Regions from separate parts of the Homo sapiens genome. Here region 2 is linked to region 1. Evidence: fine-mapped expression QTL. Tissue or cell type: whole blood. Region 1 holds a variant in brackets; the other region holds the start of a gene. All regions are shown on one strand. Distances are from middle to middle.

Region 1 (5,000 bases):
ACAGATTATAATAATTGGATGTAATTGATTAGATTAAATAGGTTTTTGCACACTGAATAAGTAGCTTCCCCATTGGCCTCATTGCTTCCTTTATCACATCATATTTTATTCTTTAATTTACCAGTATCTGTTTCTGGGCTACTTTGTCCTGGAGTCTTGTGCCCATATTGCATGGCCTTAAATACTGTAGCTTTATAATATGTTATAAAATCTGGTAAGCCAAATCTGGCTTATTATACTTATGTTTTTCAAAATTTTCTTATTCTTCCAGAAGTTATATTTGATTTTGATGGGAATCATGTTGATCCTATTTTGACTTTAAAATAGTCAGTCTTTCCATCTGGGAATTCAAATGGAGAATACTTAGGAATCTTGTAGGCCAGGCGTGGTGGCTCACACCTGTAATCCCAGCACTTTGGGAGGCTGAGGCGAGTGGATCACCTGAGGTCAGGAGTTTGCGACCAGCCTGGCCAACAGGGTGAAACCCCGTCTCTACTAAAAATACAAAAATTAGCTGGGTGTGGTGGTGGGCGCCTGTAATCCCAGCTACTCGGGAGGCTGAGGCAGGAGAATCACTTGAACCTGGGAGGCTGAGGTTGCAGTGAGCCGAGATTGTGCCATTGCACTCCAGCCTGGGCAACAAGAGCAAAACTCCGTCTTAAAAAAAAAAAAAGAAAAGAAAAGAAAAAGAAAGAAAGGAAAAAAGAATCTTGTTTTGCAGGCAAGATACAGAAGCTCAGAGGAGGGAAGCAGGGGCCCAGGTCTCCTGACTCCCTCTCCAGTGTGTTCTACACTCACCCTGCTGCCCATCTTTCTCCCCACTGGAGGCAAACTCCGTGTCCAACCTGAGGCTCCAGTCCCCTGTGACCACCAACCGGCCCCTGGTTGTGGGGTGCTGGGGCCTGTCCCCTGCTTACCAGGCGGGCAGTTCTCTAGCAGATGGACAGTGAGGGTGGCAGGGCTAAAGGTGGGCCGGTTGTCATTGTCATCCAGGATGGTGATGAGCAGGTGGGCCGTGCTGTTGAGCAGCCCGATGTCCTCAGCCAGCAGCAGCAGCTCCAGGATGGGTGGCGAGAATGCCTCCCGGTCAATGATGACACCTGACCTCACGGTCACCACACCTGGCACCCGGTGCCGCCAGCCAGGGAAACACACAGAAAAGGGGTGCGGTGGGAAGACAGGGCAAGAACCAACAGGGAGAGAGCAGAGAAAGACAGGGGCACCATGGGACAGAGATGAAAGAGGAGCAGAGGCAGTAACAAAATGACTTTCTCCCCCACAGGCTCAACCACCCGTGCTGAGGGAGGGCCCCATGCATTTCCTGTGGTTGTCCCCTCTGCAGGTGCCCTCTGCTGTCTTCAAGACTCTTGCCTGGGAAGAGTGACCCAGGGCACAGGGTTGACCGTCTCTGTTGACAGATGTGCTTTCCTGTCGGCACCTGTCACCAAAGCGGCCTCCTGTCCAGGACCAGACGGATGTGGCATGGTCTGGTTGGAGGACAGGAAAGTCGCTCTGGCTACTTCTGCTGGACTAGGGGCCTGAGCCTCTGGCCTGCGCATGGGGAGATGACGGGAGTGGGCTGGGGGGCTCCCGGCCCAGGCTGAGAGTTCGTGCACCAACAGAGGTCCTGTGTATCGTCTCCAAGCCTCTTCCCACGTCCCCCTGCCAGGCCACTGGGTGATATAACCCAGCTGCAAGATGGGGACTCTGGGCTGTGAAAAATGGGGTCTCCACGGACAGCCTGGGTCCAGCACTGAGAAGGGAGGCCCTCAATCCAGCAGTGTGGCCATCCCCACCCCAGAATCAGGCTGGGAGTGCTGGGTGGCACAGAGGCCTCACCGGTGCTGCTGTTGATGTCAAAGAGGCCACTCTGGGCACCCAGCAGCTGGTAG[G/C]TCACCACGGCGTAGATGTCTTGGTCTGCATCCAGGGCCAGGATGGGCCCATTGAGCACCGTGAGAGGGGTGCCTGGGCCAGAAGGAGAGGGGTCACCACAAGACCAACCCAGCCCCCTGCCCTCCCACCTCCCCTGCCCTGTCCCGGTGAGCCATGGCTGACGATGGATGAGAGGGGAGGGAGGTGAGGTGGACAGGGTGGGGAGGCCCTGGGGGCGGGCCTGCGGCAGCCTTGGCAGACTGAACGCAGATGCCTGGGGAGCGGCCTCAAAGCCCTGCTGGGGAGAAAACATGAGAGTGGTGAGCAAGGCCCCGGCTGCCCAGAGCCACATCTGCCTTCCCAGCAGCCTTTGAGGCTGGCCGCTCCTCGGGAGGGTCTGGGGCTCCCTGACATCCCCTCCCCATGTGTGGGTCTCGCCTGTCAACACATGTGTTCACACAATGCTCTGCCTTTGGGGGCCTGGCCATACATGACTAGAAAAACCCACTCATGTGTGCATCAAGTTCTGTGTTCACATGGCCACAGGCACTTGTCCAGGAGCACGCACAGGCCTGGGATTCCCTGGTTGTGCACTCGTGTGCCTCTGCAGGTGGGCATGTCTGCACACGAGCGCATCAGTGGGCACCCATGTACCTATATGTGTCTGTGCACATGTGTAACCCCACGCACATGCCTTGGTATGGACACACACGGGCACATGTGTGAGCATACACACAGACAGGTTTAAGAATGAAATTCACCTAGGGGGGATGCCCAGCCAGAGATGAGGAACAGGGGCTGGGGAGACTGGAGGAGTGCAGGTGCCACCTCAGGGGACATCACAGAGGAGATTCTGTCCCTCTGGAGGGAGGTGAGCCTGGTCAGTGCATGTGTGTGGGGAGAGGGCTACACTGGCCTACCCAGGACCCCCTGACCTCCCACTTCTAGTTATAGATGCTCCCCAGGGCTTCCAGAAGGCCCTGGGATGCCCTGCACTCCTGGGGTGGAGGGAGCAGTGAGGGGTGGACCCACTCCCCTCCGGGGTAGTCCTCACACCTTACATGCCCTTCTTGAGGGATGGTGGGGCAGCTCTCAGACCACCCTGGGGAACAATGACCACGACTGTCTCTTCCAACCAGACCTGTGGCTTCTTTGTGCTCATAGGAGGCCCGGGAGCCCCAGCCCACCATCTCCCGGAGCTGCACCCATCCTTCCCCTCCCGCACCCACTGGGGTCTAGGTTCAGCTATGCCGTTAGGCATAAGGGAGGTCCTCAGGCATCCCAGGCCCCAGTGGTGCCTGGCAACAGCAGGAGCTCCCGGGTGGGCCCAGCACCTACCAGCGGGAGAGTTTTCCATCACCTCTGCCTGGTAGGTGCTTTTAGTGAAGAGGGGGTGGTTGTCATTCTCATCAGAAAGGAAGATCAGAAGCAAGTCATAATCCTGCAAGGGGCAGAATGGGGCACGTTGTAGGCCATGCTCAGCAAAGTGCCCCCACCTAGGTGGGAGGAGGGTTGGGAGGTTGGGGATTGGGGCACAGAGGTGGATGATCAGAAAAGCCCACACCAACATGAACTCACATTTTTCAAAAGAAGACATACAAGAGGGCAACAAACATGAAAAAATGTGGCCGGGTGCAGTGGCTCATGCCTGTAATCCCAGCACTTTGGGAGGCCAAGACGGGCAGATCACGAGGTCAGGAGATCGAGACCATCCTGGCTAACATGGTGAAACCCCGTCTCTACTAAAAGCACAAAAAATTAGCTGGGCGTGGTGGCACGCACCTGTAGTCCCAGCTACTTGGGAGGCTGAGGCAGGAGAATGGCATGAACCCAGGAGGCGGAGCTTGCAGCGAGCGGATATCACGCCACTGCACTCCAGCCCAGATGACAGAGCAAGACTCCATCTCAAAAAAAAAGAAAAAAAGAAAAAATGCTTAGTGTTGCTAATCATCAGAGAAATGCAATAAGCCACAGTGAGGTACCCTCTCACACCAGTCAGAACGGCTATTATTAAAAAGTCAAAAAACAACATGCTGGGCATGGTGGCTCACGCCTGTAATCCCAGCACTTTGGGAGTCTGAGGTGGGCGGATCACTTAAGGTCAGGAGTTCGAGACCAGCCTGGCCAATATGGTGAAACCCTGTCTCTACTTAAAATACAAAAAAATTAGCTGGGCATGATGGCTTACACCTGTAATCCCAGCTACTTGGGAAGTTGAGACAGGAGAATCGCTTGAACCCAGGAGGCAGAGATTGCAGTGAGCCGAGATTGTGCCACTGTACTCCAGCCTGGGCAAGAGAGCAAGACACCATCTCAAGAAAAAAACAACAGACACTGGTGAGGATGCAGAGAAAAGGGAATGCTCATACACTGCTGGTGGGAATGTAAATTCCTTCAGCCACTGTGGCAAGCAATATGGAGATTTCTCAAAGAACTAAAGACAGAATTACCCTTCAATCCCACAATACCCCTCTACTGGGTACCTGCCCAAAGGGAAATACATCGTTATATCAAAAAGATACTTACACTCACATGTTTATCGCCACACTATTCACAATAGCAAAGATATGGAATCAATGTAAGTGTCCATCCACAGAGGACTGACTAAAGAAAATGTGGTATATAGACCATGGAATACTACTCAACCGTAAGAAAGAGTGAAGTCGTGTCTTTTGCAGCAACATGGATGGAACTGAAGGCCATTATCCTAAGTGAAATGACTCAGAAATAGAAAGTCAAATATTGCATATTTTCACTTATAAGTGGGAGCTAAATAATGTGTAACCATGGATATACAGAATGGAATAAGAGTCATTGGAGACTCAGAAGGGTGGGAGGATGGGAAGAGGGTGAGGGTTGAAAAATTATTTATTAGGTACAATGTTCACTGTTCAGTGAGTGGCAGTGAGTTCACAGTTCAGTGAACATTGGACATAATAGGTAGTTTTGGGTACACCTGATGGGTACACTAAAAGCCCAGTCTTCACCACTACACAATATGGACATGTTAAGAAACCTGTGCTTGTACTCCCTGAATCTAAAAAAAAAAAAAAAAAAAAAATCTGAAAAGCGCCCACACCAGGGTTCAAAGACCTGGGTTGAAGACCCTATTCTGGGTGATCTTGGGT
Region 2 (5,000 bases), 390 kb after region 1:
CCATCTGCTATCACAACCCTCAAATCAAGCCCTTTGGTAAGCAGACGTGAGGAGCCCAGCTGTTTAGAGGTGAGGAAGGCCAAGTCTGAGAAGTATATGCGGACCCAGCACAGACGGGGCCAGGATGCTAGCTCTGGGCCTCCCACCCCTCACTGCTGTCCTCCAGCACTCGAGGCAGAGCTTCCTGGTTCACACCAGTGGCTTCTGTGTGCCACCTTCCCAACTCACGGGGGACACCCACCCTCTACCACGAGACACTCTGCCTTCCTGCCCTCCCCAGCCCTGGCAGCCAGAACCAAGCCTTGCTATTCCCCCAGGCAAGGGGCCCCTTCCCAGCTCCTCCTTGGCAGAGTAACATCTAGTGCCCCCACCCCTGTAGGTGCTGACCGCAGTGCGCCTACCCCTGCACCACGAACCAAGCACTAACTCCAAGCCAGCTCTCCCCATCGTGGGCTGACTCATCATCACCATGCAACTGGCCCCAACTAGGTTCTTAAAGCCCGCCCCACCCCACACCCCACAACCTAATTCTTCCCTGTGTGAGGGTCTGACTCCACCCAACACACACACACACACACACACACACACACACACACACACACACACACTCCTGTGTCTCTCTAGCTTATTTCAAAATCCAAATTAGGGTTGGGGCACTTCCCAAGGGGCTGGAAGGCGAGGTCAATGTCAATGCCAGCTCTGGTCTGAGAGGGCAAAGGACGTAGAAAAAGAAGGCTCTGCTTTCTGAATTACTAGGGAGGATGGGGGAGTATTACTACCGAGGAAAGGCTAATTTCCTCCCAGTGGACCGCTGACAGCACTAGGGCTGGGGCTGGGGTCGCAGTGGGGCGGCGGCTGGCATCGGATCTCCGCTCACAGCACGGAGGCAGCCTCTCTAGGTGCCCGCTCCGAGAAAGCCAGGCAGAGTCCCCGCCGGCTGGCGCCGTCACTGCCTTGGAACACGCGGGCTCTGCTCGAGTCCTGGGCTGACCTACGGTGGAGATGAGGGGCAGTGCTCCCGGGTGCCAGCTCCTGGGGGCAGCCAGCACCGCTCGTAGCGGACCAGTTCCAGGGCCAGGAAGGCGAAGCGAGAGCCGCAAAAGGCTCCCGGCTCCTCGAGGGGCGCGTCTTCCCATAGCTGGACCGAATTTGGGAGGATGTGTAAGTCCCCTGGGGTCTCCCGCGGGCACAGGGACTTGATGAGGGGAGGGGAGAACTACGTGCCTTTAGTTCCCCTCAGCGCCTCTGCCCAGCCCGCAGTAGGGGTGCGCCCCACCCCATCCCCACTGTCCAAATGGGGACCCAGGGCTCAGAAGGGGAGGGGATTGGATCCCAACGCGCTCCACTCTCGAAAATCTCTCCACCCCAGACCTGGACCCTCTCCGTAGCGCCGAGAGCAAAGCCCCCAAATGTTCGCGGTCCCAGGACCGGGGATGGGGGATGGGATGCCTGTCCTCCCAAGGCCAACGCGAATGGAATTCGAGTTCCCAGGAATCAAAGTTGCCGCGCGTCGGGGAGCTCGGAGCGGGGCGCGAGGCTAGGGCCAGGGGCCTGGGACCGAAGGATGCCGCGAGCGCCCGCCACGGGCGATGGCCGCGCTGGGAACAAGTGGTTCGGCAGCCGCGGTCACCACCAACTTCCCCGCCGCGCGGCGGGCGAACGGCGAGGGGAAGGAGAGGGAAGCGAGGAGGGAAGAGGCGGTGCGTGGCTCCGGGTACCGTGTGCGTGTGTGCAGCGGCGCCGCGCCTCGCCTCGCCTCGGGCTCTGCTCTCCGCCGGATCGGCCCCCGCGGGCCGCCTGCTCTGGCCCTGGCCACCGCCGCGTCTTCCCGCCGGCGCGAAGGCTCATCCGCGGCGTGCCGGCAGCTCCTGGGTCTCCGCGGGCCGCTCGCCGCTCGCCGCTCGCCGCTCGCAACTTCAGGCGCGCCGGGGGCTCGGACTGGGCGCGCCCCAAACGTCCAGAGGCTCTGCCACCCCGCGCTCCATGCCCAGGCCGGGCTGACTAGCCCCGACCACCTCAGCGTCCGGCCGCCGTCGGACGCGTCCTCTAGCCAAGCATCGCGCCTGCAGCCCGCGTCCCTCTCTCCCGAGCCGCCGCCGCCGCTCAAGTCCGCGATCAACTTTCCCTTGCTTCCCCCGCCCCGCTCGGCCCCCGCCCCGCTCGGCCCCCGCCGTCCAGACCCCGCCTCCCGCAGCTCCCTCCCTCACCTCCCGCCTCGCCCGGCCCCCGCCCGCCCGCCCGCGCTCGGCGCTCCCCCACCCCTCAGGCCGCCAGGACCCCCGAGCTCCCGCCCGGCCCCGCCCGGACCCCCGGGAGCGGCGCCGAGCCCCGCCGGGCGCTCAGGGCATGAATATTTCAGTGCTGGCGAAGCTGCCCTCTGCCGATGTCATGGCACCGGCTGCTGTGGCAACTCTACGAATCCCCCAAAGGGGCAGGGAGGAAGCCCGCGGAAGAGGCCCCAGGTGCGAGACAGAGCAGTGCCCCGCCAGGCCGCCAGCCGTCCCGCAGAGGGGCGCGCAGGGGGATGGGGCCCCCAGCGTCTCGTCCGCCCCGCGCCTCAGGCAGAGCGAGGTAACGCTCCCGGGAAGCCCGGGCGGGCGAGCGGGCGCTCGGCCTAGGTGAGCCCGCGCCATCTGTTGGCTTTAAGCGCCCCCTCTCTGCTCCCAGAGTCGCTGAGCAGTCCCTCTAGTCCTTGGGGCCTCTTGGCCTACGCTTCTCTCCAACCAGCTGCCTTTGCCCACCCGACTCGTGCGCTCCCATCTGCGCCTCCTCCCTCACTAGAGCTCAAGAGGCCTCCAAGTGCTTAGAAATGGAGGACCCCGGGTTGGAGGAGACCCGTGAGGTCACTTAGGCGCCCTCACCCCTGCGGGAGCTCCGTCTGCAGTGCCCGAGTCATGGTCTCCCGGCTCCTTTTTGCACACCTATAGGGACAGAGACTTTATGGCTTTCTGAGACAGCTGGATCAAGAAAGGGTCCATATGCAGGTAATGGAAGAGGTTTATCCCCTACCTTTGATCTTTACTTCCCCGGGGCTAAGCATTCTGATTTTTTAAAACTATTTCTCACATGACAGGATTTCCGAGCTGTCACTGTTCCAGTCAGTACATTGACAGTACCTGCCTGGAGCCAGGCTCTGGGCTGAGACTTTCTGGGCCTCAACTCATTCTATCTTCAATAAAGTCTTTCTGGTGGGCCCTGCCATTATCCCAGTTTTACAGTGAGAAACAGGCTTTAGGAGGTTGGGGACTTGCCCCTGTGGTGGAGTCGGGTATTGAACCCAGAATCTATCTGGTTCCAAAGCTCCAGTTCCTTACCATTCGCTCATTCATTATTCATTCATTCATTCACAGTCACTGCTATGTGCTAGCTAACTGAAATAGTTTCTAGGAATAGGATGGAGAACAAAACAGGCTTGGTCTTTGTGCCCCATGAAGCTTCTCTAGTAGGGGAACCAGACATTCATCAATGAAACACATAAGCAGGTAAAATTACAGCCAGAATCAGTGCTAGGAAGAAGAGTGCTTTAATGGCGCCTGGCCGAGGGGATCAGGGAAGACCTCCTAGAGGAGGTGACTGAGCTGAAGGATGAGCAAGGGAGAGAGAGTGGAGTTTTAGGCAGGAGAAACAGCATGTGCAAAGGCCCCAGGTGCCCACTGCAGGCAACGGCTGGGCCAGGAACAATGGTTTGGTGACCGCAGTCGCAATCAACTTGTGCAAAGGTGGGAAGGAGCTGGCATATGTCAGGAAGTCCAGAAAGGGTGGGGAGAGCTCCGTGCCTCCAGCGTACGAGGAAACGCTCCTGGGAAGCTTGGGAGGGTGAGTGAGCCTGCACCATCTGTTGGCTTTAAGCACCCCCTCTCTGATCCGAGTCACTGAGTGGTCCCTCTAGTCCTTGGCAGTGACTGTAAAGCCACAATGGAGTGGGGGCCAGACTGTGCAGGTGTGTTGGCCTTAATCAGGAGTTGATCTTTATCCTAAGACTGAAAGCTTCAGAGGCCGGGCTTGGTGGCTGACACCTATAATGGCAGCATTTTGGGAGGCTGAGGCAGTAGGATCACTAAGACTCTATCTAAAAAAAAATAAGAGAGAGAGAGAATTGATTGGGAGGCAACAGTTGATGAGAAGAGACTGCTTCAATTAAAAGTATTTATTTGTCAAATACTATGTGCCAAGAAATTTTCTAGACCAGGGGTGAGCACACCGCTACCCAGAGGTCAAATCTGCCTCATCACATGTTTTTGTAAAGAAAGTTTTAGTGGCACACAGACATGGCCTGTTTGGTTGTGTCTCCTTTCACACTACAACTACAGACATAAGGAATTTCAAGAGGGACCGCATGGCCTGCAAAAACAAGAAATATTTACAGCCTGGCCCTTTACAGAAAACGTTAGTTAACCCCTGTGAATTTAGACACTTTGGATATGTCAATGAACAACACACACAAGCACACACACACAGGCACACACACATGCACACAGACACGCATGCTTGCGCCAAACAAATCCTTGCCCTGGTGAAGCTTACATGTCCTCAGGCTGCTGCAGTGTCTAGGTGATTGGTGACAGAGGCCTGGAATGAGGGGGTGGGTAGAAGTGGAGAGAAGTGACTTTCAGGAGGTAAAAATCTACAGGGCCAGGAGGACAGGGAGTGGTTATACGTGAGATAGAGCAAAGGGTCAAGGAGACTTCTGGGTTTCTGGCTTGTGGTGGTAGATGGACAGTGTGCTGTTTCCTGTGATGGGGCCCTCTGAGGAGGCCACTATGGAGACCTGAGCAAGAGCTCCCTTGGGACATGTTGTGTGAGAGGCCTGTGCAGTCACAGAACAGAGATGCCAAGTAGGCTCTTGGACAAATGAACTGGAGTCGTGGTCCTACATGTCTTAGGTGGTCATGCTTTTACACAGTGTGATGGAGCCAGGAGTCCGGAGAGCGGGATCTGAGTTCTAGGTCACCCTCTAGCTGGATGGTAGCGGGCTGGACACTGGACCTCTCTTGGCCTTG

The links. PIP is the estimated chance that this variant, and not a neighbour inherited with it, causes the effect.
Region 2: CDH23 starts here. The variant in region 1 is fine-mapped to the expression of CDH23 in whole blood (TOPMed, PIP above 0.99).

Annotation. Positions count from the first base shown.
Region 1 is chr10:71,787,253-71,792,252 of GRCh38, reverse strand. CDH23 (cadherin related 23) reads right to left here. Exons shown (of 70, transcript NM_022124.6): 45 at 3,211-3,313; 46 at 1,840-1,965; 47 at 918-1,121. It overlaps MIR7152 (microRNA 7152), which reads right to left and starts at 1,506; the gene lies at 1,453-1,506. RefSeq lists an enhancer at 1,066-1,965. The variant G/C (reference allele first, on the strand shown) is at 1,893.
Region 2 is chr10:71,394,037-71,399,036 of GRCh38, reverse strand. CDH23 (cadherin related 23) reads right to left here and starts at 2,117. Exons shown (of 70, transcript NM_022124.6): 1 at 1,719-2,117. RefSeq lists an enhancer at 1,314-1,825 and a silencer at 2,509-2,598.